2 linked regions of the Homo sapiens genome follow. The protein of the gene in region 1 purifies or fractionates together with the protein of each later gene. This does not show direct contact. Each region holds a gene or a part of one and is shown in the gene's direction. Other genes may lie near its edges. The genes, in order: MYL10 and MYO19.

Region 1 (14,776 bases):
CAGGCTTTCACCATCATGGACCAGAACCGTGATGGCTTCATCGACAAAGAGGACTTGAGGGACACCTTTGCCGCGCTGGGTGGGTGAGCCAGCAGCCGGGGGAGATTAGGGCCAGGCCAGCCAGACAGAGTGGGCGGTTGGGGCCAGCAGGGCAGGGCTCGCGGTGAGCGTGAGAGGCTCCTGTGCTGGGGAGCACAGGGTAAAGGCAGCCACTGTCTGGAAAGTCAGGGGGGGACCTTCCTGGGGGGTTGGAGAAGGATTCGGCCAGGGAAGGGGAAAACACTTCAGGGACAGGAGTAGCAGCATGGGCCTGGGCCTGGGCCTGGGCCTGGTGTAGGGGACCCTGGGTGTGGGGAGGGGCCAGGAAAGCAGGGGAGAAGCTGAGTCAGAGGGAAAGACCCAACTCCCAGGTTGAGGTTTCTGATCCCTCTAAGGCCCCAGGGAAGAGCCTGAAGTCGCCTATGCAGGGTTTAGGTGGCAGAACGGACGTAACCAGGCCCTGATCCCCTGGGAATCTGAGTGTCCCCTGGAACCACAGGGAATCCCAGCATCCAGGCATCCACTGATCCCCTCCTGGGGCACAGGAACCCTGAGCCTGCAGCCCCCGTGCACCTCAGCTGCAGCTTCTTGGGCCTCAGTTTCTTCACCGTAAAATGGGGATGAGAGTGACTTGCTCCCTTCTCATGAGGCTGGGGGCAGCCGGAAGCTGACTGTGGCCCAAATGCCCCCTAAAGAGTCCCCCAAAAAGGCGTCAGGGCCTTAGGGCTGAGTGGGGGGCACGTGGAGCAGCTGAGTGGGGAGGCTTTGTGGGATCCTCCGAGGCCCAAGCTCTGATCTCTCTTATCCTCCCTGCCCCCACCTCTCACCTCCCACAGGCCGCATCAATGTCAAGAACGAGGAACTGGAGGCCATGGTGAAGGAGGCCCCCGGACCCATCAACTTCACGGTGTTCCTGACCATGTTTGGGGAGAAGCTGAAGGGTGAGCCAGGCTCCTGGAGTCCTGGAGGGGCAGCAGGGAATGGCAGGGGGACGGATGTAGGAAGGCAGGGGCCTGACACACATACACACCACAGGTGGGAGCATGATGTGGCCCCAGACACCAGCCCCCAGGTGCACGCACCTTCAGGGGCCCTGCCTCGGTTTCCCTCTCTTCACCGCAGACTGGGGTAACTATAAAGACCCCTGCCTTGGCCAGGCATGGTGGCTCACGCCTGTAATCCCAGCACTTAGGGAGACTGAGGCGGGCGGTTTGCTTGAGTCCAGGAGTTTGAGACCAGCCTGGGTGATATAATGAAACTTCATCTCTACTAATACAAAAATTAGCCAGACATGGTGACACATGCCTGTAGTCCCAGCTACTTTGGAGGCTGAGGTGGGAGGATCACTTGAGCCTGGGAGGTGAAGGTTGCAGTGAGCCGAGATCGCACCACTGCACTCCAGCCTGGGTGACAGAGCAAGGCCCTGTCTCAACAACAACAACAACCATAAAAACTAAACACTGCCTTTAACCCCTTTGCCCACCCATCCCACTGCCCCCAGCCATGCTGCCTCCCTACCTTCCTACCTGTGAGCTCCTTTTACCCGCTCTGCACATGGGGCTGGGGGTATAGGCAGAGGGTGCCGGAGGGAGGGTGTTTCCAAAAGATGCTGTGGTCGACCCCTGTGCAGGGCAAGTTACTCCCCTTGTCTTTTTCTGTGGTCACTGGAGCCCCCAGAGGAAGGATCGGGGAGCCTCATTCACAAATGAAGAGACTCAGATCCAGAGGAGTCACGACCCCTGCCCCAGATGCTCCAGCAAAAAGTGGCCGGGATGCAACCTCAACCCCAAACCCTGGCTCTAACCACTGTACCCGCCCGAGACACAGCATTAGGCATGGGGTGGAGGGTTGGAGCCATCTGTGTCTCCTTTCTGTCCTGGCCTCGGGGGAGCTCTCCCATAGTGACATCCTGGAGCTTGAGGGTTCCGTGGTCAGAAGGAAGGGCCAAGGCCGGGCACGGTGGCTCATGCCTGTAATCCCAGCACTCTGGGAGGCGGAGGTGGGTGGATCACCTGAGGTCAGGAGGTCAAGACCACCCTGACTAACATGGCGAAACACTGTCTCTATTAAAAATACAAAAATTAGCTGGGCATGGTGGTGGGTGCCCGTAATCCCAGCTGCTCGGGAGGCTGAGGCAGGAGAATCGCTTGAACCTGGGAGGCAGAGGTTGCCGTGAGCCGAGATGGTGCCATTGCACTCCAGCCTGGGTGACAGAGACAGACTCCACTACAAAAAAAAAAAGAAAAAAAAAAAAAAAAGGAAGGGTCAGCCCAGGCAGTGGTCCCTGGGAAGTGAGCACTGTCAGCTCTGCACCCTCAGGCTGCCCCTGCCAGGCCCCCTCCCTTGAACCCCCTGCCTTGGCTAGGCCTAGGGTCAGACCCTGGCTTCCCATTGACTCCTAGGTTGACCTTGCACAGATTTATCTGCTTTCTGGCCTCAGTTTTTTGGTCTGTAAAATGGGCTTATAATAGTTTTCTGAGCCCGCTGTAACAAATTCTGTGAAACCAGGTGGCTCAAAACAACAGACATGTATTCTCTCACAGTCCTGAAGCCCAGAAGTGCGAAATCTGGCAGAGGATTTGGGGAGAATCCGTTGTCTCTCCCAGCCTCTGGTGGCTCTACCTCTCCCATCTCAGCCTCGCCGTCAATGGCCCCGCCCTCTTCTATTTAACCTCCCTCCACCTGCCTCTTTGTTTATTTTGTTTTGTTTTTGAGATGGAGTCTCACTCTGTTGCCCAGGCTGGAGTATAATGGCGCCATCTCAGCTTAGGACAACCTCCGCCTCCAAGGTTCAAGCGATTCTCACGCTTCAGCCTCCCAAGAAGCTGGGATTACAGGCACCCGCCACCATGCCCCGCTAAATTTTTTTGTATTTTTAGTAGAGATACCGTTTCACTACATTGGCCAGGCTGGTCTCGAACTCCTGACCTCAAGTGATCCGCCCATATCCGCCTCCCAAACTGCTGGGATTATAGGCATGAGCCCTCGCGCCTGGACTCTACCTGCCGTTGGATTCAGGTCCTACTGGGATAATCTAAGATGATCTCTGCATCTCAAGATGCTTAACTTACATCTGCAAAGTCCTTTTTTCCAAATAAGGTGACATTTGCAGGCTCTGGTGGACATATCTTTTTTTTTTTTTTTTTTGAGACGGAGTCTTGCTCTGTCACCCAGGCTGGAGTGCAGTGGTGTGATCTTGGCTTACTGCAAGCTATGCCTCCCGGGTTCACGCCATTCTCCTGCCTTAGGTTCCCAAGTAACTGGGGCTACAGGTGCCTGCCACCACGCTCGTCTAATTTTTTTGTATTTTTAGTGGAGATGGGGTTTCACTGTGTTAGCCAGGATGGTCTCGATCTCCTGACCTCGTGATCCGCCTTCCTCGGCCTCCCAAAGTGCTGGGATTACAGGCGTAAGCCACCGTGCCCGGCCTCTGGTGGACGTCTCTTTTTAGGGGCCACCATTCAGTCCACCACAGGGTGATCCGACCTGACATCACAGGTTTGATGGGGTGAAAAATCAGTACTGTCATGGGTCGTGACCTGCTGTGGGGTAGAGCAGCCTCCACGCACCGTGTCCTGGCAGATCCAGAGCCAGAAGGAAGGCAGCCATCAGCCTGGGTGCGAGAGATGAGGAAACCCAGGGCTGGGGAGGGCAGGCTCATCTGGAGCAGGCTTTGAACTTGGGGCTGTGTAGCCGAATCAGGAGCATCACTGGGCCCACCTCCAGGCAGCTTGTCGGGGCCTATTCCCAGGACCATGTGCGCCTCCTGGAAGAGCTCAGAAGCCCAGGAGGCCGGGAGAGAAGAATGCTCTGTGGAAAAGACATGTGTGACTCCAGCCAGCAACTTCAAAGGAAGCAGACAGGCCTGATTCTTTTATCCACAGGCACATAACTGAAGGAGGCGTGTTAAAGGCCAGTGGGAGGGCCTGGGGAAGTGGCCTGTGGTTCTGCCAGGGTGGACGGCCCAGGGCCGGGCCCAGGAGGTGAGGCTGTGAGCACCTCCCGCCCCTGGTGTTGGGCATGGGCGAGGGGCCCTGCTGCCAGAGCAGGAGTTTAGAGAGACCTCCAAGAGTGCTCAGGGGAAGGGGAGGGGACTCTGTCAGCTCACAGTGGGCCCCAAACCTGTTTCGCAGATGGGAAGATTGAGACTAAAAGCTCGTGTCGGTCCATGGTTGAGCTGAAGCTGTGATCCAGGGCCTGGTGTGGGCTGCAGGGCTGCAGCTTTTTCTCATTTTTGCAGGGGCGCCGGGACTGGGGCTCCGGCTGAGCCTGTCATGCAGACGTGGCCAGACTGCGTGAGAGGCTGGTGGGAGGGGACAGGAGCCGGGAGGGCAGGGTGCTGGGGCCGGCGCCGCCTCACCCCGCTAATTGGGAAGAGGAGACTGTGTCATGAGATTCCCAACGATGATGGGAGGAAGTGGCCACTCTATAGCAGATTTTATGAGGTTTGCAGTCTCAAGAACAGAGGCTCTTTCTGGGGAGGAGAGAAGGGAGGACTGCCAGCCACGGTAACAGGGAGTGGCAGGGCTGCGCTGGGTGCCTAAATCCATGTGCATTGTCCGCAGGGGGATAGGCTGGAGCCGGCCACAAACCTGCCTCAGCAGTGAGGCCTCTTCAAAGACGTTGGGAATTTTCAACTAATCAGTGAAACCTGGGAGGCTGTGGCCTCGGAGGCAAATCCCACATGGGTGCCCCACGTGATGCTCTGGTCACTCAACCCTCACCCGCCTAGAGGCACCTGCTACCCCCTGCCTGCTTGGCCAGGCTGTGAGGGCCTGGAGCCCTGCCCTCGCTGCACCCTGGGCTGAGCCTCTCTGCTGGGCACACCAGCTCCCTGCCACCCTGCCCAGAGGCAGTCCATGGCGCTGCCCTCTAGGAGTTCCCAGGCCAGCAAGGCCAGTGTGTGCCAGGTTTTTTCACTCTGTGCCAGTTTCAGAGATGCCCAGAGACTCAGACACTGCCCAGTCCTGGCTAGTTCCTAGTCCGATGGGGGAGGCACAGATGGCCCTGACCCAGTCTGATGGGAGAGGCACAGATGACCTTGATCTGGTGTGATGGGGGAGGAACAGATGGCCCTGACCCAGTCTAATGGGGGAGGAACAGATGAGGCCCTGATCTAATCTGAGGGGGGAAGCACACTTGGCTCTGACCCAGTCTGATGGAAGAGGCACAGAAGGCCCTGATCCAGTCTGATGGAAGAGGCACAGATGGCCCTGACCCAGTCTGATCGGGGAGACACAGATGGCCCTGATCCAGTTTGATGGGAGAGGCACAGATGACCCTGACCCAGTCTGATGGGGGAGGCACAGATGAGGCCCTGATCTAATCTGATGGAGGAAGCACAGATGGCCCTGACCCAGTCTGATGCAGGAGGAACAGATGGCGATGACCCACTCTAATGGGGGAGGCACAGATGGTCCTGACTTAGTATGATGGTGGAGGAACAAATGGCCCTGACCTAGTCTGATGAGGGAGGCACATGGCCCTGGCTGACCTAATCTGACTGGCAAGAGCACAGGGTGACAAAAGGAGCAGGGGACTCTGGAGTCCACAGAGGTGGGTTTAAATCCTCCCTTCTCTTATCAGTGGGGACTTGGGCAAGTAATGAAACATCTCTGAGCCTGTTTTTTCTATGATAAACCAAGATATCCACATCTACTCCATGGGTGCTCTCAGAGCTCCAGGGGATAAAATCTTAAAGCTGCAGGCATAGAGCGCTCAGATGTATTTGCAGCCCTGATCAACCCATGTTCGTTAAAACCTTACCATGAATGGTATGTTATCTTAGCTGCTCCTGTGAGGTGGGTAGCAAGCACCATCTCTGTCCCCTTTCACCAATGACACATTTGAGCACTGAAGAAAGGAAGGGGGCACCCCCGCATCCACAGTGAACAAGGGGGACATGGTGACAGAAGGGGAAAGGGCACCGGGCGAGGGTGGCCAGGTCACCTGCTGTCATTCACGCAGCCCGTGAAGCCTTGGGCAAGACCCTTCCTCTCTCTGGGCTTCAGTTTCCCATTGGTGCAATGTGGGGGCTGCACATTCAATCCCATTGTGGGTATCAGATTAATTTCTTCTAATGACATCTCTCCCCAAGGCTGTGCTGTGACCGGGATAAAAGCAGAACTTCTCTGGCTTCACTTCTGCCCCCGTGAATCCCTTCCCTTGGCCTGTTGGCCCACCTGCCCCACTTCTGGCCGGGACAATCTCTCTCAGACCCCTCCAATGCCACACTGCCCAAGCCCCAGCCTTTTGGCATCCACGTACAGAACTCTTTTTCCTCCACCCACGGCCTCTTGTGCACAGCTTGGGTAACACGTGAGCCCCAGAGTCATGCCCCCTCACCCAGACCACTGGTCATGCAGCTGTGAGACCCTGGGCAAGTCACTTAACTTCTCTGGGTCTCAGCTTTTCCATCTGTAAAATAGGGAAGGGCTAAGCACAAATTAAATGCTCAATCAGGGTCTCCGTGTACAGTTGCTCAGGTTGTTCACAAAATATATATATGTGGTACCCTTGTCTATGATTACAATTACCTGTTTCCCTCCTTGTTCTTGCTTCAAGTGAGCTCGGCCCTCGCTGTGCAGTGAAAGTTGGGGAAGAAGTTCCCCAGAGCTGTGCCTCTGTGCAGGGGCCGTGGGACTTGCCCCCAGCCCCAGCCCCTGCCCAGCCTTGTGCCTGTCCCTGTGGGGCCCTCTTCACCTGCCTCTCTCCCTGCCCTGTATGTGCTGCTTATAGGCACGGACCCAGAGGAGACCATTCTCCACGCCTTCAAAGTGTTCGACACTGAAGGGAAAGGTTTCGTCAAGGCCGATGTGTAAGTTTCCCCTGACTCCCCCAAAATGCTCAGGGGAATAAGCCAGCTTTGGGCTGGGGTCAGGGTGGATGGTCGCCCAGTCTCCTCTCCCAGAAGCCAGGAGCTGGGGGGCCGCTGCCCAGCCCAGTGATATCGCTTGATGTCCCTTCCCCTCTCTGGGCCTTGGTGTCCCCTTCTCTATGTGTGCGTGGAAGTAGAAATGGATAAGAAATGGTGGGTCAGGCTGGGCGCGGTGGCTCACGCCTGTAATCTCAGCACTTTGGGAAGCCGAGGTGGGCAGATCACTTGAGACCAGGAGTTTGAGACCACCCTGGCCAACACAGCAAAACCCCATCTCTACTGAAAATAATAAAAAAAATTAGCCAGGCATGGTGGTGCATGCCTGTAGTCCCAGCTACTCTGGTGGCTGAGGCAGGAGAATCGCTCGAACCCAGGAAGTGGAGGTTGCAGTGAGCCGAGATCACGCCATTGCACTCCAGACTGGGCGACAGAGTGAGACTGTCTCAAAAAAAAAAAAAAAAAGAAGAAGTGGTGGGTCACTCCAGGAGAGCTTCCTAGTGGGGTGGGTGTGGGGGCAAAGGCAGATCTTGAAGAATGACTGCAGGTTGCCCAGGCTAGGGGGGGAACAGCATTCTAGATGAGGGAACAGAGAGCTTGGAGGGCCAGGGCTTGGCATGTGCATGTTTGTTCAGAGTTGGCTGCAGCTGGAGGGTGCGGGTGGAGGTGGTGTAGGGGAGACTGAGCACAGAGCGGCAGGCGGGGCCTCTGGGGGAGCGCTCACACCCTAGCCCCTGGACCCTGCGTCTGCCCTGGGAGCATGGGAGAACCTGAGGAGGAGTTAGGCAAGGACACCATGGAGGCCAGCCTGGAGAAGGAGAGGAGAGGGTTGCAGCTCCCAGGAGGGTCATGGCCGTCGAGATGGAGTCGGGCGGACAGATAAGCAAAGAGCCAGGGGCCAGTGCCCATAGGATCCAGGGTCTGGGGAGAGGACTGAGCCAGATCGTAGCCAGCACCGCCTCGGGCAAGAGGGCAGTAAGGATTGGGGAAAGTGACCAGCTCACTTGGAATGCATGAAGGGGAAGTGGCTGCAGGCAGCTGTCTGGCAGGCACCGGGGCTGCCATCATGAGGGTAGGGGTGCCCCACCCAGTGACAGCAAGGGAACAGAGAGCCAAGAATTGCAGGCAGGAGTGGGCGGGGGAGTGGCAGCCTTCCCAGGACCCAAGATTCAGGGCTGACCTCTGAGCTGTGCCGACGCAGTCCCTTCAGAACCTTGCTGGACCTGAGGGTGGCCTGGGGCAGGTGAGATTCCTCCCCAGGCCCAGGCTTCCTGATCAATTACTGTAATGCTGCCAGCCTTCATTTTGAGGCTAGTTTTGCTGGTTTTGAGATTCTCGCATCTCAAAGGGAGAGGGCAGACGCAGCAGGGGTGGAGGTGGAGAGGGTCTGTCCCGTCTCACACATTCTCAACTCCAAGACCATGAGTCACATACTCCCCTGGGATGGGGAGGGGATGCTGAGGGTTGCTGCAGTCCACAGTCCTCCCCTTCACCCCTCCCTCGGGGTCTGTGGCTCCTACCTCCATCCTGGGGACCTGGGGAGGCATCAGAGTCACCCCCGGAGTAACCCCAAGCCCTCCCTCTACTGTCAACCACTTTCTCTCTCACCAGTGCAAGGACAAGGCTGGGAAGACCCTTTGGGGACCTAATTTGGGAACTGAAGGCACTGCCTTGGGACATGGGACCTGGATCTGTGGCTGCAGGCCAGGCAGGCCAGACAGGCCACGGTGGAGGCTCTGGTTGAAACAGAGTCTGTGAAAAGTCCCCGGCTTGGAGAGCTGGAAACTGTGACTGTCCCACAGAAACATAAATAATGGAAAATGTGCATTGGTCCTTAGCGAGGCCTGCCGCAGCCGGTGCCAGAGGACACTCTGGGTGGACGAGGCCCCACTCAGCCGTCTGATCCCATCTTTGCCCACTGAGCTCCCTTAAGAACCCTGCAGGACCCTCCAAGCTTGAGGGGGCAGGCCCTTGCAGGCCCAGGAGGACACGGACCTGGGCAGGCCTTCCTGTACCCTTGGCAGAGCACAGGCATCTTGTCTCTAAAACACTATGCAGGTGTCAGTGAACGTCACAAGCTGGAGGAAAGAGTGTGTCCAGAATCAGGCAAAAGAGGCTCTGCGGTGGGGGACCTGAGGTGTCTCCCCTCAATGATCCAGAGCTTGATTATAGTGCATGATGGGAAATCAGAGTAGCCCTCATGGTGGGGTCCCCAGGTCATTGCTTTTGGTCCCTACCTGATGCTGGGAGGAAAGCCCACTTCATGGAGGAGAAAACCGAGGTTCAGAAGCTACTTGGCCATCGGGGGGGCTGGCAGGGTCAGCCCCAGGTTGATGTCCTCCTGGTCCAGGATGTCCCCCTGCCCCCACTTGCCCCTCATCACCCCTGGGATCTGCATGTTCAAGCTGGGTATCCCGTTCCCTGAACATGACTGTGTCTCTCCCTTGAACAGCATCAAAGAAAAACTTATGACCCAGGCAGACCGCTTCAGTGAGGAGGAGGTAAACTGGGATTCTGGTGGGTCACGGCGGATTCTCTGCTCTGGCCCCCACTTGGCCTGGTGCAGGCTGACTCTCTGCTCCTTCTCAGGTCAAGCAGATGTTTGCAGCATTTCCCCCAGATGTGTGCGGCAACCTGGACTACAGAAACCTGTGCTACGTCATCACTCACGGTGAAGAGAAGGATTAGGGGATCACAAGTCTCCCCGACATTCAGGGGCAGCAAACACTGTTGTGGGGTGTGACAGGGAGCTCTTGCAGCCAGAGGCTGCAGGAAAAAGGCTTCCCTTGTCCTACGGTTGGGGACAAAGCAAGAATAAATAATGCTAATGAGGTCTGAGTTTGTGCGGTAAATGCTCCAGCGAGGGAGAAAACGAAACATTCCTATCTTGTTGGTTTTTCCAAACCTTTTTTGTTCCTCTGGCTCTGCTCAAATGTTCCCGAGGAGCTGGTGTTTAGAGCTAATTGACAGTTTTAACGATTCCCTGCTAAGCCACGGGATATTGCCTTCATTTATGGAGCTTTTATTAAGCACCTAGTGCATGCCAGAGGCTGTGCTGGTCCCAGGGACTCTCAGAGGAGCCAGGACTGTCCCTGGGCAGGATATGGTGCTGACTGCAGTGAGGAAGGCAGAGGAGGGGGCAAAAAGTGGGGTGGGGACATCGGTGGGAGGAGAATGGAGAAGCACGGGAGAAAACTGGCTGCAAAGAGCTGGCTAGAGGTGAAGACGTCAGAAGGGAAGAGGTGGCTTCAAGGGATGTTTAGGGGGTAGGCAAGGATTTCTTAAATGGGACACACATAACTGTGATCATAAAAGTGGATAAGTTGGACTTCATCAAAATTAAAAACTTCTGCTCACCAAAAGATACAGTTAAGAATGCAAAAAGGCACCGGACGAGAAAAGATACTGGCAACGTAGATCATGACAAGATCTCATATCCAGAAGATGTATTTTTTTAAAATCCTACATATCTATAATAGAAAGATTATAACCCCAAAAAAGGTAGACGACAATAATAATATCCAAATGGCCATAAAGATCTGAAAAGAGGCCGGGCACAGTGGCTCAGGCCTGTAGTCCCAGAGCTTTGGGAGGCCGAGGCAGGAGGATTGCTTGACGCCAGGAGTTTGAGACCAGTCCCAGCAACATAGCAAGACCCCATCTCTACAAATAAAAAAAAATTTAAAAATTAGCCTGGCATGGTGGCGCATGCCTATAGTCCCAGCTATTCAGGAGGCTGAGGTGGGAGGATCACTTGAGCCCAGGAGTTGGCGGCTGCAGTGAGCTGTGATCACACCACTGCACTCCAGCCTGGACGACAGCGAGACCCTGTCTGAAAAAATAAATAAATAAATAAATAAATAAAAATAAATGATAGGGCACTCATACATGGGAATACCACATGGCAATAAGAACAAACTACTGATGTACACAACAGTTTGGTTGATTGCTCATATATACTATGTTGTATGGAAAAAGAGGCGAAAGAGTGCATACTTAAAAAAAAACTTTTTTATTGAGATACAATTCACATACCATAAAACCCCCCCCTTCTTTTTTGTTTTTTTTTAGACAGTCTCACTCTGTCACCCAGGCTGGAGTGTAGTGGCGTGATCTCGGTTCACTGCAACCTCCGCCTTCCGGGTTCAAGTGATTCTCCTGCCTCAGCCTCCCAAGTAGCTGGGATTACAGACACGTGCCACCATGCCCGGCCAACATTTGTATTTTTAATAGAGACGGGGTTCTGCCATGTTGGCCAGGCTGGTTTCGAACTCCTGACCTCAGGTGATCCAACCGCCTCGGCCTCCCAAAGTGCTGGGATTACAGGTGTGAGCCACCGCGCCCTGCCTTTTACCACTATTTACAAACAGAATATTAATCACCACAAAATGAAATTCATTAGTGGTCACTCCTTATTCTTCCTGCACTCAGCCCCTGGCAACCATGAAGCTACTACTGCCCGTCTCTATGGATTTGCCTGTTCCGGACATTCATATAAATAGGATCCTGCAATACATGGCCTTTTGTGTCTGGCATCTTTCACTTAGCATAACATTTTCATGGTTCATCCTTGTTGTAGACTTTATTTGTTTATTTATTTATTTATTTTTGAGACAGGGTTTCACTCTTGTTGCCTAGGCTGGAGTGCAGTGGCATGATCTTGGCTCACTGCAACCTCTGCCTCCTGGGTTCAAGTGATTCTCCAACCCCAGCCTCCCGAGTAGCTGAGATTACAGGCGTACGCCACCACGCCTGGTTAATTTTGTATTTTTAGTAGAGAGAGGGTTTCACCACGTTGGTCAAGTTGGTCTCGAACTCCTGACCTCAGGTGATCCATCTGCCTCAGCCTCCCAAATTGTTGGGATTACAGGCATGAGCCACCACACCTGGCTTCATTCCTTTCTGTAGCCAGATAAGATTCCATTTTATGGATAGATCACATTTTGTTTATTCATCAGTTGATGCACATTTGAGATATTTCTGTTAGCTATTATGGATAACGCTACTATGAACATTTGTGTACAAGTTTTTGTGTAAATACATGTTTTCAATTCTCTTAGGCATATACCTAGGAGTGAAATTACTGGTTCATATGGTAACTCTATATTTAACTTTCTGAGGAATTGCCAAATTGCTTTTCAAAAAGGTTACACCGTTTTGTATTCCCACCAGTGATGTACAAGGGTTTCAATTTTTCCACATTCTTGCCAACACTTGTTATTTTCTGTTTTTCTTTTCTTCCAAAATTATAACCATCTTAATGGGTATGAAGTGGTATTTCATTTGGGTTTTGATTTGCATTTCTCTAATGGATAATGACATTGAGCATCTTACCATGTTTTTATTGGCCATTTGTATCTCTTGGGAGAAATCTGTTCAGGTTCATTGCCCATTTTAAAATTGTGTTACACTTTTTTGTTGCTGAGTTTAGAAGTTCTTTATATATTCTAGATACTAGATCTTTTTATTTTAATTTATTTGTCTATTTATTTATTTTTGAGACAGGGTCTCACCCTGTCACCCAGGCTGGAGTGCAGTGGCACCATCACAGCTCACTGCAGCCTCAATCTCCCAGGCTTAAGCAATCCTCCCACCTCAGCCTCCCAAGTAGCTGGGACTATAAACATGAGCCACCCCACCTGGTTAATTTCTATATTATTTTATTTTATTATTTATTTATTTATTTGGAGAGCTGCCCAGGCTGGTCTTGAGCTCCTGGGCTCAACCAGTCTTCCCACCTTGGCTTCCCAAAGTGCTGGGATTACAGGCAAGAGCCCACCACGCCCAGCCTGGACCCTTTTAGATATGTGATTTGCAAATATTTTCTCCCATTCTGTAGGATGTCTTTGTACTCTCTTGATAGTGCCCTTTGATGTACAACAGTTTTACATTTTGATGAAGTCTATTTTAGCTATTTCTGCTCGTGCTTTGGGTGTTATATCTAAGGAACTGTTGGGCAGATGCAGTGGCGCATGCCTGTAACCCCGGCCCCTGGGAGGCCGAGGCAGACAGATCACATGAGGTCAGAAATCTGAGACCAGCCCGGCCAACATGGCCAAACATCATCTCTACTAAAAATACAAAAAAACTAGCCAGGCATGGTGGCACACACCTGTAGTCCCAGCTACTTGGGAGGCTGAGGCAGGAGAATCACTTGAGCCCAGGAGTTCAAGGCTGCAGTGAGCTGTGATTGCACCACTGCACTCCAGCCTGGGTGATAGAGAGAGATCCTGAGGCCCTGTATCAACAAAAAGAAAAGAAAAAAAAATAAAGAAAAGAAAGGAAAGGAAAGGAGGAAAGAAGAAAAGAAGGGAGAAGGGAGGAATGGAGGGAGGGAGGAATGGAGGAAGGGAGGCAGGGAGGGAGGAAGGGAGGGAGGGAGGAAGGCAGGGAGGGAGGAAGGGAGGGAGGGAGGAAGGCAGGGAGGGAGGAAGGGAGGGAGGGAGGAAGGGAGGGAGGGAGGAAGGGAGGGAGGGAGGAAGGGAGGAAGAGAGAAAGAAAGAGAAAGAGAAGAAAAGAAAAGAAAGGAGGGAAGGAAGGGAGGGAGGAAGGGAGGGAGGAAGGAAGACAGAGAAAGAAAGAAAAAGAAAAAAAGCAAGAGAGAGAGAAAAAGAGAGAGAAAGAAAGAAAGAAAGAGAGAGAGAGGGAGGGAGGGAAGGGAGGGAGGGAAGGAGGGAGGGAAAGGAAAGAAAAGTAAGAAACAAGAACCGAGTGTTTAAGGAAGAGAAGAGCAGGTCTAAGGTGTGACCCTGGAATCGGGTGGCTGAGGTTGGGGGAGCAGGTCCCTGGAGCCAAGGATTGGAGGCTGTGGGTTGAGGGGTAGAATTCAGACCCTGAGAGGCCAGGAGGAAGGAGGCCAAGGAGAGTGGCATGTTGGACCCTGCAGAGGGCCAGCCCTGGCTTTGACGGTAGCTGCTTCACCACAGGGGCCACACTCCCCTACCCCTTGGCCACAGTGAAAGGTCTCCCCTCCTCTTTCCCCACTGCTGAGCTCCTGTTCCCTCTGTGGGAGGCGGGAGAGAGAAGCACCACCATCAGTCTGGAGCTCTGGGCTCAGGACACAGGGGACAGGTACATAGCAGAGGAGCTCCTCCCTCCACCCCAAGCCTGGCTCCGCTTGCTCTCCAAGACTTTGACTTTCCTAGAAATCACGGACCGAGCCCTGTCTCTGCTGCTGAGGAACTTGTCAGACCTGTTTGTGCCCCGCAGAACCAAGCCAGCGCCAAGGTACTGCAGGCCACAGGCATCTGCTTGCCAGCTGCTCCCTGCAGCTAGGCCTGCCCACCTGCAGGAGCCCAGCTCCTCCAAGACACAGGGCCAGCCGGTAGGGAAGGCCAGAGGGACTCCACGTCAGCTCAGAGAGGAGGCCGGGGCATTCATCTCATTTATTCCTCTGTCCTCAGTGCCTCCACTTGTCTATACCTCCTCTGTACCAGTGCTCAGAGAGGGTGATCAATAACACCAGTAACACCTCACCTCTGCCCTCAATGGTCTCTGGCTGGGAGATACCAGGATGGGGGTAGGCTACAGGCATGGGAGTGATGCGGCACAAGTGGGGCCCCAGGGAAAAGAAAAGCAGGGGGCCTCTCAGAAGGCACAAGATGGCTGTGAGGCTGCTGGCGGCTCCAACTCCCTGGTCTCTGCCACTCTTGGGAGTTACACAGCATGGCCTCCTGGAGGCCCCTCTCTCCCAAGCTGTGGTTCATTGGTGGTCTCCACTGCCCCTGACCTGGGCACATGACTAGCTGCCTTCAATATCCACGCCTTTCTGTCCAGTCCTTGAGGAATACCTGGATGACCCCAGGCTCTACAGTTCTTCCTCCCGTCCCTGTAGCTGGGGTAATCCACAGAGCTGCCCTTCCA
Region 2 (15,309 bases), on another chromosome or scaffold:
TCTTGACTACTGCCCCATCAGCTCCACCTCACTCCCATCCTCCACGCCCCTTTTCCTAGTTTAGTCCTTCTCATCCTTCAGACTTTAGCTTTATCACCACCACCTCGAGGAGGCACCTGGAAAACCAGGTTTGATTAGCACCTTCCTACCCAGCCTCAAACACACCCCCGAGGGTGTTCATCCAACATGTGTGGCCCATTGGAGTGAGCTCTGACATGGCAGCAGGCAGCCTGTGGCACAGCCTCCAACACACAGGATGAGCTGAGTGATAACAGTTGTTGCTGGACGAATGGCAAGAAGTTTTGAGATTGTTCTTTTCTAAGAAGATTGCTCTGGGGAGAAGTGGGGAGGGGAAAGAGGAGGAGATTGGATTCAGGGAGAACAGTCAGGGAGGATCACAGGTTTAGAAGGGTCCCTTAAGACAGAGGTGAGGAGCATGGGAAGTTGGGAGAGGAATGTGCTCTGAGCCTGCTCGTTGAGAGCCTGCAGCAGTCATCCCTGCACAGGAGATTCTTGGTCTCAGGATCATGGAAGGGCCCGCTGGAGGCATTTGATGTAGTTACTAACCAGAGCCCAGTTGATGGCCCTGGGCAGCCCCTCTCCCTGCCTAACCCCATGGTCTCTCATCTGCAGGCCTCACTGGAGCAGCTTCTGCAGGTCCTACACAGCACCACGCCCCACTACATTCGCTGCATCAAGCCCAACAGCCAGGGCCAGGCGCAGACCTTTCTCCAAGAGGAGGTAATTAACACCGGGCCAAAGCTGCTTCGCACCAAACCCCATCTGGCCAAGGCCCTGGAGAGATGAAGGGCAGGACATCTGTTCCAAATGGAGTGCACAGAAGTGGTCTCTCCGGCCAGGCCTGACATGAGAGAGGACCCATCTCCCTTGCTGTGGCAGGGCAGGCATGTATGGTTGTGTGGTCTGTGCATAGTAGCCTAGCCAGGGAGGCAAGTTCCAGTGCATCTTGTTTTTTTGAGCCATGTACCCTGATGAGAGACTGAAACTGCCCAGAGGAATGGGTGTCTCGTGATTAGCTGAAAGTCTACATCACCACACAGTCCCCGCACAGTGCAGCCATTTCTCACTGGAGGTATCATTTTTTTCTTTTTTTTTTTTTTTTTTGAGACTGAGCCTCACTCTGTCACCCAGGCTGGAGTGCAGTGGTGCAATCTCAGCTCACTGCAACTTCCGCCTCCCGAGTTCAAGTGATTCTCCTGCCTCAGTCTCCCAAATAGCTGGAATTACAGGTATGCACCACCACACCTGGCTAATTTTTGTATTTTTAGTAGAGATGGAGTTTCACCATGTTAGCCAGGCTGGTCTCAAACTCCTGACCTCAGGTGATCTGCCCACCTCAGCCTCCCAAAGTGCTGGGATTACAGGCATGAGCAGCCACTGCACTCAGCCGGTATCATTTTTTTCTAATCTAACAAAAGCACTCTAGCCAGCAGCTGCCCTTTTCTTGGGATTCCAGGTTCTGAGGGATGTGGATGAGGGGTGAATGCTGGGCACTGCTGAAGGTGTGGCCTGGTAGATGTGGCCTTCCGGTTTGTAGCCAGGACAACTCAGCTCTGTGGTAAAGACCTGGGTTCAGGTCACAGAAGAATCTTCATAGTATAATCTTCCCTGCCTCTCAGCTGTGAACCACCCTCTAATGCCTGCAGACAGTGAAAACAATCCAAACTGGAAATTTGCCTGGGCTGGGTTGTGTGGTAGTGAGACTACACTGAGGGCAGGGTGAGACGGAGCCAGGACATCACTTGCTTCAGCTGTATCAGAAGCCATGCGTCGGATGAGGGGGACTTGGGACCACCAGGACCCTTTCTAGTGGGAGATTTGTTTTCAAGGTCCCTCGATTTCTCACAGCCCCAAGGAGATACCCCCATTAGCCAAGCCTTGGGAGAGCCTGCAGCTTGGCACTGGCCAGGGTCTAAGAAGAAGGGCTGAGAGAATGGCATTTCTGGCCTGCTGGCCCCATGCTGCAGGTGCCTGCCCTGTCTCCCCACCCTTGCAGGTCCTGAGCCAGCTGGAGGCCTGTGGCCTCGTGGAGACCATCCATATCAGTGCTGCTGGCTTCCCCATCCGGTGAGTGGGCTCGATCACGGCACAGTGCAGGGCCAGTACAGAGTGGGGCTCAGGACTCTCATTGGGCAAGAGCCTGCCCAACCCAGAGTGAGATGTGGAAATGAAGAGAAAGAGGCTGGTCTGTAGAAGTCAGCTGGGAACTAGGGAGCAGCACCCATTCGTTCATCCATTCACTTATTGTGCACTATTTTGTACCCAGCTGATGGCTGTGACAAAAGCCACACTGGTACAATGTTGGGGACAGAAGCCAGACTCAGGAGGGCTGACAAGCAATTGGGAGGAAGTGCAGATATCAGGTGCCAGCAGCTGTCTGAGAAGTGTTGCCTTGATGAGGAGCAGGGAGATCTGGGGGAGGCAGAGGAGACTGTGGGGTCAGAGAGGTCAGAGGGGAGATGTGGCCAAGCATGTCTGCGTCATAGGACTGGTCCAATTGTTTGGGGAGAGGCCTGTCAGCCCCTTTGGAGGGAGGCAGCCCGCAAATCCCCTGCTAACACAAGAGATGCTTTGTGTTGGTAGACCAAGGCAGCAGGGAGAGCAGACCCATTTTAAATAGTCTTTATGGGTTTCCAACTAAGTGATCCTAGAAATCGCTTCAAAACCACATTCACATTCAGTGGGGATACTCGGGGAGGGCAGCACCGTGCTGTGTTGTTGAGCAGATTAAATAGAATAACTTCTGATGAGCCCTGAACCGTTAACCTGGCTCACAGATGAAGTAATTCTCTACTTCTGCCTGCTTTGGCCTCCAGGGTCTCTCACCGAAACTTTGTAGAACGATACAAGTTACTAAGAAGGCTTCATCCTTGCACATCCTCTGGCCCCGACAGCCCATATCCTGCCAAAGGGCTCCCTGGTGAGTGGGACCCATGAGTTAGTCATTTGTGCAACCACAGTTTACTGAGCATCTACCCTGTGCCCTGTCTTAGGGCTAGGGGCTGGGGCTTACTGGTGAATAAAACACAGCCCTGGTTTTGGTTCAGTGGGGGAAACAGATTCAAAAAAGACAAATAGCATGGAAAGTGGAAAAGCAGAGCTATGAGCAGGATGCTGTGGGTGGTGCTAGGGAGGTGTGAATTGGGGAAGGCTTCCTGGAAGAGGTAGTATCTGAGAATAAATTGGATTAGCCAGGTGATGGGTGGTCCACATGATAAATGTAATCTGAACAAAGGCCTAGAGGCTTGAGGCAGCAGTGTGGGTATGAGGAACTCCAGCCAGTTCTGTGTTGCTGGTTCATTGAGGCAGAGAACTGGGGCAGGTGAGGCTGGAGTGGCAGGTAGGGCTCCATCAAGGAATCTGGACTTTATTCTCTGGGCAGATGAGCAGGCACTGCAGGGGAAGGAGCAAATGACTCTTATCAGCCTCACACTTTCTGGAGACCACTCTGGGGGCACCATGGAGGGCTGTGGGATTGAGGCTGCAAAGTTGCCCCAATAGAGAGAAACAAGAATTGTGGGCACAGTCGGGAAATATTTGTTGGAAGAAACTGGTCAGTCTTGGTAGGGGCTTGACTAGATGTAGAGGGAGAGGAAAGGAGTAAATTAACTTAGCCTGGGAAGTGAGGAAAAGCAAGAGGAAAAGAGGTTCAGGGAGGCTGAAGAGCCCGGGCATGGGTGACTTGTCCTGCAGGTCCAGTGAAGAAGTCTGCAAGGCACTTAGGCAGGCTTTAGTCTCAAAGGAAGGATCTGGAGGCCCTCATATGGGGGTTGTCGGCATGCAGATAAAAGAGAGGCTGTGGGAGCCACAGGGCCCAGACACAGGCAGAGGGAGAACAGGCCAAGGACAGGCTGCCGGGGGGCCCCGCCTCGGCAGGACCCCAGCCCAGCACCTCTGCCCCTCCCACCCAGCCTTACCCTGGGCCCCTCACAGCCATTGGGGCAATCCTGCTTTGTTTCCTCCCCTCCTGGGCAGTTTTCACTTTCCTTTCACCCTTTCTCCTTTCTTCTCCCTCTCCATGGTTTGCTGTCCTGTTCCGTGTCTCTTGCCCATAGCCCTTCTGGCCCCTGGTTGATTTTGCTGCTGTTTCTCATCTGTGGTGTCTCCTTTGGCAGCCTCTGTCTTCAGAGAGGCACTGGGCATCTAAGGTGGTCAGAGCCCTCAGGTAAATCCTACCTCTCCAGGAGTCAGCTCTGCGAGCTGCGGGAGGGCAGGCAGTGGGACACGGGACCTTTGCAGGGCTGGGATTTTTTAAATTTATTTTTTAATTTATTCTTTTTATTTGCAGTAGAAGATTCCCAAACTAAGGGCTGGGATTGGATCTCCCTTTTCCCATACATGGTGGGGAGTTGAGGGGTCGGGGCTGAGGGAGTGGCCTATAGCTGCCCTATTTGGCCCTCAGGATGTGTGTTTGGGCCTTGGAAACAAATGCTGGCTGAGCAGCCTGGGATTCCAAGCTTGGAAGGAGTCACCCTTCCAGGTGTCAAGCACCCTCTGCCAGCCTGCCCAAAGGGACTCATGGCAGTAGAGGCTGTGGGACACCCCAGGACACACAGGCGCAAGTGGGTATTCCAAGGCTCCACGGAACAGCTAGCACCCTGAGGGACAACAGAGAGGCTGTTTGTGGCTTCCTCCAAAAGAAGAACAAGGAGAAAATGGCTAGAGCCAAGAACAGCAGGAAAGAGACCTGTAGAGTGCTAGGGAGGCCAAAGCCAGTTTCTTCAGGCCACAGAGGCATGTAGAGATGACCATGCACTGATGGGGCCATCTCCCTCCCCCAGAATGGTGTCCACACAGCGAGGAAGCCACGCTTGAACCTCTCATCCAGGACATTCTCCACACTCTGCCGGTCCTAACTCAGGCAGCAGCCATAACTGGTGACTCGGCTGAGGCCATGCCAGCCCCCATGCACTGTGGCAGGACCAAGGTGTTCATGACTGACTCTATGGTGAGCTGGTTTGGGGATGAGGAGGTTACAGAGGCAAGCTGTGTGCTCTCCTCAGCAGGAGGGGGCAGGGGGAGAAGAGGCTGCCCTCAATGGATGCCTTTTCTCCCAGCTGGAGCTTCTGGAATGTGGGCGTGCCCGGGTGCTGGAGCAGTGTGCCCGCTGCATCCAGGGTGGCTGGAGGCGACACCGGCACCGAGAGCAGGAGCGGCAGTGGCGGGCCGTCATGCTCATCCAGGCAGGTAGGTGGGCAGGTCACCTGTCAGCACTGCTCACAGACCCCACAGGATGTTGGTTTCCTTTGAAACATAGCTCGTCGAGTCCCCATCTCCTGAAGCTGTGTCCCAGCCTGAAGAGATGTCCCTGTGGTGTGCTGGGATTCAAATTCCCTGTCCCCCTCACTCATAACGTCTCTCCAGTTCAATGGAAACCAAGTCACTCCACAAACAAAGGTGCTCTGTAAGAAGTGGAGGCTAAGCGTTGTCTAAGCGTTGTCTTTAATTCCTTTCTCAGACCCTGACAGCTGTTTAGGCCAACTTTTTTTCCCTTTATGACAACTCAAACCATTACCTGCTGGGCTCTAGGGCTGGAATGAATTTAAGGAGAAGGTAAAAACCAAAAGGAGTTCATCAGATGAAAAGATGTATTAACCAACATGTTCATAGTGGTCTTATTTTGAAAAGGAAAAGTGTTGGAAAGAACCCAAATATCTAACAGTGGTGACATCATGGCCAAATGATGGACTGGACCATCCCTATGATGCAGCTAAGTGTTTTTGAAGAATATTATAAATTTAATGGAGAACCACTTCCAAAATGATATTCATACCTAGATGTCAAACTACATATTAAGGGCGATGCCCTCCTTTTAAGGTGTGTTTGTGTGTGTGTAGGCATTAAAAAATTGTATAAGGAAGCTGGGCACAGTAGTTCGCTCCTGTAATCCCAGCATTTTGGGAGGCTGAGGTGGGAGGATCACTTGAGCCCAGGAATTTCATACCAGCCGGGCAACATGGCAAAACCCTTTCTCTACTAAAAATACAAAAATTAGCCAAGTGTGGTAGTATGCACCTATAATCCTAGCTACTCAGGAGGCTGAGGCAGGAGAATCACCTCAACCCAGGAGGCAGAGGTTGCAGTGAGCTGAGATTGCACCATTACACTCCAGCCTGGGTGACAGAGCAAGACTCTGTCTCAAAAAAAAAAAAAACAACAAAACATAATTAACCGTGCCTGGTGGCACATGCCTGTAGTCCCAGTTACTCCAGAGGCTGAGGCAAGAGGATTGCTTGAGCCTGGGAGATTGAAGCTACAGCCTTACGGAGGCTACAATAAGCTGTTCGTGCCACTGCACTCCAGCCTGGGCAAGACCCTGTCTCAAAAAAAAAAAAAAAAAAAAAAAAAAAAAGAAACAAAAAGAAAAAGAATATGCTGAAATTGCAGAGAAGGGAATAAAAATTACCACCATCTATTAATTGTATCAGTGTTTGGGTATATGGTGATGTGAGATCAGGGATGCATAAAGCGAACAAATTCAACTGAGGATTAAAAACAAAACAAAAAAAAAAGTTTTTAAAGGCACAGACAATCCAGACCCCTCCCATTCCCTGGGTGCTGACCTGGACCCAGCCTGAGACGGGAAGTGATTGCTGGGCCCTCAGCCAGTCCTTCTCCCCAGTGCCCCTTCACTGTGTTGTGTAGGTGTATTCAAGTGTGTGGGCAGTGTAAGGAATGTTTAAAAGCCAATTTTGCCTTATGTATTGATTTTAGAACCTTATTTGTAGCAATTTATTGAAAAAAAAAAAACGTATTTGAAACTTTGACAGCAACTGTGGTGCTGCTGCAGCGAGGTCACTGACAGCTCTAATGGCCCCTTTATTATCTCTTTCCTGTTTCTGGGCAAACCTCTTAGCCATTCGTTCCTGGTTAACTCGGAAACACATCCAGAGGCTGCATGCAGCTGCCACAGTCATCAAGCGTGCATGGCAGAAGTGGAGAGTAAGTAAGACCCAAGAAGTCGGGGTGGGCAGTGGATCAATTTTGGGGACCAGATGGACCCGAGTGGGAATGCTGGCTCTGCCACTGCAATGCAGGTGGCCTTGGGCAGGTTGTTTAGCCTCTCTGAGCCTCATATTCCTCATGTATGCAGTGGGCACAGTAACACCTACCCTGCAGGGTGGTTATGTAGGTGAAGAGTGGTATAAGCAACTCTGGGAATATACCAAACTCTGGGATGTACACTTTAGAAGACTGGGTTTTATGGCATATCAGTTATATCTTGATGGACTCTTATCTTGTTTTCAAGTAGCATATGTAAGGCCTAAGCACAGTTGCCTGGGGTGTATAGACTTGTGGCATATGGAACCAGTTTGGTTCAGGGCAGCCAGCTGTTTGCAACCAGGTGCCTTCAGTTCACCTTGTTAAGATGATTTGTTAAAGATAGTTTTGATTTCCATTTTCTGCTAAGAGGGCTAGATAAATCTAAAGCTATAAAGGGATATTTGCTTTTTAAGATCAGAATGGCCTGCCTTGCTGCTAAAGAGCTGGATGGTGTGGAAGAAAAACACTTCTCTCAAGCTCCCTGTTCCCTGAGCACCTCGCCGCTGCAGACCAGGCTCCTGGAGGCAATAATCCGCCTCTGGCCCCTGGGACTGGTCCTGGCCAATACGGCTATGGGTGTAGGCAGCTTTCAGAGGAAATTAGTGGTCTGGGCTTGCCTCCAGCTCCCCAGGGGCAGCCCCAGTAGCTACACTGTCCAGACAGCACAAGACCAGGCTGGTGTCACGTCCATCCGAGCGCTGCCTCAGGTACGTTGTGTGTGATGGCCATGACAGCTTTGTTCCTGAGAACAGCAGGAGCAAAGCCTACAAGTTCACAGCGGGAATGAGACTGAGGCTGGGACAAGATCCATCCCTAACCCTACTGGGTAAACCAGAGGGCTGCATGTCCCAATCAGCTGCAGGTTTGGATTATTTATTTTGTTATAACTGGGAATCTTCCAGAGCCCTTTATCTTTTTAAAAACTGCTTCTAATTATTTCAGCATCTCTAAATCTTCTAGTCCCATTTCCAAATGCAATGCTGCGTTTCTAGCAAGCTCCCAGCTGATTCTGATGCTCCATGAACCACACTGTGAGAACCAAGGCTTTAGATGAGTCAGGAGCAGGAGGTGATGAAAGTTTAGCTTAGGGCCTGGAGCGGTGGCTCACGCCTATAATCCCAGTACTTTGGGAAGTCGAGGCGGGTGTATCACCTGAGGTCAGGAGTTCAAGACCAGCCTGGCCAACATGGCGAAACCCCATCTCTACTAAAAATACAAAAATTGGTTGGGCGTAGTGGCAGGCGCCTGTAGTCCCAGCTGCTCGGGAGGCTGAGGCATGAGAATTGCTTGAATCTGGGAGGGAGAGGTTGCAGTGAGCCGAGATTGCGCCGCTGCACTCCAGCCTGGGTGACAGGACGAGAGTCCATCTAAAAAAAAAAAAAAGTTTGGTTTAGGGTAATAATAGGTCAATTACAGAAAAGAGGAAAAATTCACGAGACATAGCAAAAAAGAAACTACCCAAGACTTGAGAGCAAATAATCTAATTAGTCCCACATCACAACTTGGGTTGTGAGGAGTTTGTTACCTCAAATGGCACTGGATTTGGCACCATGTTTTCCCCAAATTGTATTGCTTGGTTTTTTCCTTTTCTGGCTGACGAAATGACAAGCAGGGTCAGTGGTCCAAGTTCTCTGTGGGTTTTTTTTTTTTTTCATGTTATTTAATTTTTTGAGACGGAGTCTCACTCTGTCGCCCAGGATGGAATGCAGTGGGTTTAAGCGATTCTCCTGCCTCAGCCTCCCGAATAGCTGGGACTACAGGGCATGTGCCACCATGCCTGGCTATATTTTTTTTTTTGTATTTTTAATAGAGACGGGGTTTCGCCATATTGGCCAGGCTGGTCTCAAACTCCTGACCTCAAGTGGTCTGCCTGCCTTGCCCTCCCAAAGTGCTGGGATTACAGGTGTGAGCCACCGTGCCCAGCTGTTTTTATATAAGCATCCAGGGAAAAGTCAGCCAGCACACTCAGGAAGTCATTGTCACTCAGGGCTTTGTGAGTCACCCCAGTAAGCCAGGCCTCATAGAATTAAAGTGGCCGAGGAAAGGTGAAAGTATGTTGCACTGGGAGGTAGAACCCCAGGGTCTGGATCCTGGTTCTGCCCCATTCACTGGATGATCTTGGCTAAGACACATTTTCTCGGAGCCTGTCTATAAAATGGGCTAATACTCAACCTACTGCATGGAGTCACAGCAAGGAGTAAGTGAAATGACAAGGCAGAAGGAAACACCAAATTTCCATTCAGAGGAATAACTATAGGCCTTAATCTGGATGAAGTCTCCCATGAAAACACACAGGCCTGCTAAACAGAAGGGTAAATGTTTTGCCCTTCTGGCTTTAAGCAGTCATAGGAATGTGACAGACATTCCTCTTAGGGAGCGCCTCCTCCTAGGGTTTCCTCATCTGTCTCACACTGAGTGGATGTAATGCTATTTTAATCCTGCTGTGGCCCCCAATACTAGTACTTGTCCATACCTTCTTGCATTTTTAGCGTCTGCTCTGTGGGGTTGTTAGGCCCTGGCACTCCCAGGAACTAGTGCTAAAGCTGCATCTCTCTCTCCCCTCTAGGGATCGATAAAGTTTCACTGCAGAAAGTCTCCACTGCGGTATGCTGACATCTGCCCTGAACCTTCACCCTACAGCATTACAGGCTTTAATCAGATTCTGCTGGAAAGACACAGGCTGATCCACGTGACCTCTTCTGCCTTCACTGGGCTGGGGTGATCCTTGGTGCCTTTGTTTCCACAAGGCCTTTTCCTGCCCCCTGCCTTGCCAAAGACATTTAATCAGCACACAGCTGCCAGACTATTCCCACAGTGCTCCAAATGCACATGAACAACAGTGACGGCTCCAGCCTTCGACCCAGAGCCCCGTGCCCAGTGCGTCAGTGGGCCTGGGGTTCCAGGCTACATCAAGCACTGATGGTGTCAGGGCTGGTAGTTACCAAATCAGGGTTAAGAAACATCAGGGCCACATTTCACTACCTTCACAGATCAAACTCAGCAGCAGTCATGACTGTCTGTCACTACACTGGGGATCCCAATTCCACATAAGCACTTTTGGAAGAAAACAGCCAAAGTTGGCCTAAAATTGGCGCTGGAATTTGGGCTGGGAAAAATCTTGTGGTTATTTCCTTTAAAAAGGAACAAAACTTTAGTATTTAATTAGTTGATTTATTTAATGTAATTTCAAACAATTAAATTATGAATAATGCAATGTACAGTAGAATCACGTTTTGATTTTATTAACACTGACCAAGTTTAACTCCATATGAAGTGTAAGCTTGATATCGTTTATGATGTCTATCAACTGTACCAAAAGTAAAACATTTAAAAACAATCATCTGAATGTCAAGTTTTCTCTCCATAAAGGACTTGCCACCTTAAGGACCCCAAGTCTGCCTGAAACATGAGCCACATCAATGCCGGTAAAGGCCTGCATGACCTAATCTGCATCCTGGAAACCTCTTTTGCCTGAGCTCCCCAGCCCCAAACTAGCTGGTCTGGGAGAGGGAGCAGGCAGGTTCCAGGAGTCAAGCACACGCTTGAGCAAGCAGCACAATAATCCATCTTAAGACTCCTCATTCTGGGATGGCTCCACAATTCCTAAACAGCAGTCTGCAAACTCCACAAACAAAGGCTCTTGCATGTAAGCTCTCATGAGCTTTGCTTTGTCTTCTCCCTGATCGAGGTTGACCATCAACTGCCTGAGGTGTGGATTGAGCAATAAGCTTCTTAATGTTGCAGATTCCCCTAAAAATTAACAAGAAAAAAAGCCAGTCTGAGTTCAAGTGGAAACACATGGAGATGGCTGAAAAGTGAAGAGCTATTTCAAGTGTAATAAAACTATCAGCAAGGTGTGGTGGCTCATGCCTGTAATACCAGCAACTGGGGAGGTCAAGGTGGGCAGATTGCTTGAGCTCAGGAGTTCAAGACCAGCCTGTGCAACATGGCGAGACCCCACCTCTATAAAATGAAAGGTAAGACCAGCATATCAAACTATTTCCGCATTAAATGCAGTAACAGATACCAGTTCTTGGTATCTTTGTAAATATTGTAACTTCGTGCCACTTCAGCTAAGAAAAAAATGCTTTATCAGCACAATCACAAAGCAAATAGTAGCATTAAGCTGCTGGCATGTTTTCTTTCTTTCTAGCCATAAAAGTTGCCAGTGGTGAAGACGGCTATACGAAATAATCTGAATGATGTCTAAGCATGCCATTTGGCATGCAGCAGCACCAGTAGCAGGGAACCAACAATAATACCTGCATGGTACTTCACAGTCTGTAAAATTTTTCACACCTATTACTAGCTCATCTCCAAACTCAGTCTAACTAATCATTACCATGAGACTAAGTGCAAAACATAACCTTTTAACATGATTCTGTGAAATGGGAAGAATGAAATTAACAGACCCCATGCACATGTAACAGAATGTTGTAAGGACTGAATAAGCAGTGCTACAAAAATGGCAACACCTGTTTCCCCCTAAATCAAATCATGTGATAACCAGTTTGTGTTAAGGGCTGGACTGTGAGCTGAGCACTGGGGATCTGGGAATACAGGTCCCTGCTGTACAAATCGGTATGTGAGAGACAAATTACCATGAAATGTAACAGTGATTTATTACTATTAAGTCCAAGTTGCTATGGGAAACCAAAAAAGTGCCTAATTCTGAAAGAGACACAAAAGGTCAAGAAAAGCTTAGCTGAGTGAAGAAAACTTGAACCAAGGCTTGAAGGAGGAGCAGAATTTTGCCAACCCACAAGACCAGCAGGATTCCAGGCAGAAGGAATGGTGTGGGCAGGCTGGGAGGTGTGAAACCCTGTATGTTTACAGATTATGTGGCTAGATAGTAAGAGCCCTACATGCCATACTTATTCAAGAAATTAAAAACTTTTTAAAAAATCACAATCCTTACAACACAGTAAATGTATCTCAACGATTGACAAGCATAGCACAGACTTACCTAAATTCTTTAAATTCTGCAAAGAAACTCTGTCTTCTTCCTCATCACTATTGAGAAAATCAGCTATAGAGTCATCATCATCTAAGGAATACAAAACAGTCAATGGCTCATGGCTAAAAAGGAGGCCTGGGCACCAGATTTTAACCACTACTTGAACAGGATAAAAATGTGTGCACGCACATGTGATAGTGATAGGGGTATTCAAGCAGGTACAGACAAAAATCCTCTTCTCCGGAGTCTGTGACTATACTAACACTCCTTTTTTAGAAGAGGGAGGCTAAGTGAAAGAATTGGTGATTTTAACAAATGCACTCTAGTGTTCACATCCTTACTGTATATGTGGTCCTGTGGTCTTTAGGCTTAGACCCCGGTTGTCTAATAACTTAATACCCATCCCCACCTCAACATGGCTCCAACCCTGTGATGGGCCAATTAACTGGATGCTCTGTAAAAACCAGCCAAGTAGAATCTCCTGTGCTTTCAGCATGGGCAGAAACTGCTGGCATTGCCTGAACCCAACCTGGAAATTTCTCAAAGGGCAAAAATGGGCCATGCCTTTGGAGTGAATGTTCAATACCTCTTTGGTGGCACCAGAGGGGCTGCTTTCAGAGCCTGGCATGGTGCTTGACACCCAGGAGGTATTAAAGAACGTTTAGATGGCTGGACGGATGGGTTGACAGCCCACTACTGCTGTGAGCTCTGAACCCCCAGCAGCAGCGAGATGATCTAGGACAAAGAAAGCCTCCTGCCTGGGCTGAGTTCAGGTGAACTGACAGTCCCAGCCAGATTCATGGAGGGAGACCAGCAGCTATGGGCTAGAGAAGGCTCCTGCCAGCAGGGCCCACCGCAAACCCCCAAACCACAGCCATGGCCTTTCTCATCTCTGTCTTCTGCCCATTTTTCTTCTCCTGAATACTGCTTTCAGGCTGTTGCCTCAATATCACCCATGATGACATGGCCCCACTCCTGATGCTCAAGGCTAAGGAAGCTGTTCCTTCCCAATGAAGCTATTGTTCTGGATTCCCTGACCAGCCCCACTCTCCCCTTTTCCTTCGACTTATTCTATGTGAAGTCCCTTGTAGATTTGTTTGAAGTCAACCAACCCACCTTTGTTTTCCACAGGCTTTACGGTTTTGGTAGGAAGAGCTGATCTTATTTTTTTCTCAACAGGACGAGTTTCAGGGTTGCACTGTTCTGAAAAAGACACAAATCCCAGGCCCACATTACCTCCATTTCAGCGACAAGGCTGCACCTCCCTACCAAGGTAGCATCTAGGTAGGAAGCAAGTGTCTGGGGTAAGGGATGTGGGTGGGTGCCCAGGAATGTGGAAGAAGTGAGAGATCAAAGCAAGAGAGAGATTAAGGAAAACCGCCAGCAGGCTGAGAAAGCAGGACTCATTCATGCACCCCAAGAACCTGTCCCCATCCTCCCTACCCTGCCGAATCTTACAAAATTCTCACCACAATTAACTGAGGTGTTTGAAATAGCTGCTGTAAACCAGATACCAGATGGGATAAAACTAGGGGCAAAACCACCAAAGAACTTACAGAGTCAACAGAAGGCCAGCTGTGCTGGCTCACGCCTGTAATCCTAACATTCGGAGGCCAAGGTGGGAGGATCACTTGAGCCCAGGAGTTTGAGACCAGCCTGGGCAACCTAGCAAGACTATGTCTCTACAGAAAATAAAAAAAATCATCCAGGCATGGTGGTACACACATGTGGTCTCAGCTACTTGGGAGGCTGAGGCAGGAGGATCCCTTAAGCCCAGTGTGTCAAGGCTGCAGTGAGCTGTGATTGTGCCACTGCACTCCAGCCTGGGTGACAGTATCAACAGAGCATGAAGTCACAGGAAAGGGTTCTGAGGACATAAAGGCAGGACCAGATTGTAGAGACTTAAAATGTAGATTTGACAATATGCTACGGAAAGGTTCTAGTCATGTAGGTGGCAGTTACAACAGCTGCCAGTGACTAAGTGCCGAGCACTGTGCCAGGTACACAGTGAGATACATAGTGGCTCAATGAACCTTTACGAAGCCCCCATGACATGGAGACTGTTAATTCCACTTACAGATGAAAGGATTAAATTTTCTTGTAATAAACTTGTCCATTGGGGTCCACAGCTAGTAAGTAGCAGAGGCAGATTTGGAATCCGGGTCTAACTTTACGGCTATGCTATATGTGTAAGGAACACAGCAGGAGGGACTGAAGGAGAGGTGAATTTTCTGGGTTGTACCTGACCCCAAAATACATTTGTGTCTAAGGTGCTCAAAAAGAGGCTGGAGCTAAACAGTTGGATGTCAGCAAGAAAAAAAAAAGTTTAAAGTGAAAGAGAGATCACCTACCTAGGAATAAAAGTCAAGGACCACATTTCAAGAGAGAGATCTAGCAAAAGGAAGGAGAAGCTGGGCACAGTGGCTCCTGCCTGTAATCCCAGCAATTTGGGAGGTTGAGGCAGGAGGACTGCTTAAGCCCAGGAGTCCAAGACCAGCCTAGACAATACAGTGAGACCCTGTCTCTACGAAAAATAGATAAAGTTTGTCTCCGTTACTCAGGAGGCTAAGGTGGGAGGATCACTTGGGCCCAGGAGGCCAAGGGTGCAATGAGCTGTGATCACACCACTGCACTCCATCCTGGGCAAAAGAGCAAGACCCTGTCTCGAAAAAAGGAAAAAAAAGAAAACGAGAGTCTACAGCTAAGCCACCCTGAATGCACCCTATCTCATCTGACCTCAGAAGCTGTAACAGGGTCAGGCCTGGTTAGGACTTCGAAGGGAGAAAGGGAGGAGAGAATACCACAGAGCGGTATCTTCCCAGCCTCCAAAGAATATCAAGAAAGAAAAAGCCAAACACAGCAGATATTCATGGGAATCAAGAAAGATGACAGGCTGAGCATGGGTAGCTCACGTCTGTAATCCCAACGCTTTGGGAGGCCAAGGTGGAAGGATCACTTGAGCCCAGGAATTCAAGACCAGCCCAGGCAATACAGTGAGACTTCATCTCCACAAAAATTAAAATTAAAAATAAATAAGCCAGGCATGGTGGCACACGCCTGCAGTCCCAACTACTTGGGAGGCTGAGGTAGGAGGACTGCCTGAGCCCAGGAAGTCAAGGCTATAGTGAGCACCACTGCACTCCAGCCTGGGTGACAGAGCAAGACTTTGTTGCAAAAAAATAAAAAAGACAAATGAAAAGTGTACAACAGATGTGGCTATTAGAAATTTCTGATAAAAATTATTTATTAAATACCACTTTAACACTGCCTATAGCAGCAACAAAGGC

Evidence for each region.
Region 2: the proteins of MYL10 (region 1) and MYO19 purify together in Homo sapiens (affinity purification with mass spectrometry; 3 studies listed by BioGRID and IntAct, with this or other methods). This does not show direct contact.

The regions. Positions count from the first base shown.
Region 1 is NC_000007.14:101,608,300-101,623,075, reverse strand, and holds the end of MYL10 (myosin regulatory light chain 10), read left to right. Parts: intron 1-3; coding exon 4-79; intron 80-875; coding exon 876-980; intron 981-6,777; coding exon 6,778-6,856; intron 6,857-9,365; coding exon 9,366-9,414; intron 9,415-9,502; coding exon 9,503-9,601; 3' UTR 9,602-9,746; downstream 9,747-14,776.
Region 2 is NC_000017.11:36,490,729-36,506,037, reverse strand, and holds the end of MYO19 (unconventional myosin-XIX), read left to right. Parts: intron 1-633; coding exon 634-741; intron 742-2,017; coding exon 2,018-2,088; intron 2,089-2,837; coding exon 2,838-2,941; intron 2,942-4,076; coding exon of another isoform or gene 4,077-4,096; exon of another isoform or gene 4,097-4,179; intron 4,180-4,802; coding exon 4,803-4,969; intron 4,970-5,078; coding exon 5,079-5,208; intron 5,209-6,725; exon of another isoform or gene 6,726-6,877; coding exon 6,878-6,963; exon of another isoform or gene 6,964-7,478; coding exon 7,479-7,772; exon of another isoform or gene 7,773-8,271; coding exon of another isoform or gene 8,272-8,432; intron 8,433-9,631; coding exon 9,632-9,787; 3' UTR 9,788-10,402; downstream 10,403-15,309. Other genes in the region: ZNHIT3 (zinc finger HIT domain-containing protein 3), read right to left, coding at 10,634-10,815, 12,032-12,112, 13,139-13,225. UniProt on the Homo sapiens protein: Actin-based motor molecule with ATPase activity that localizes to the mitochondrion outer membrane. Motor protein that moves towards the plus-end of actin filaments. Required for mitochondrial inheritance during mitosis.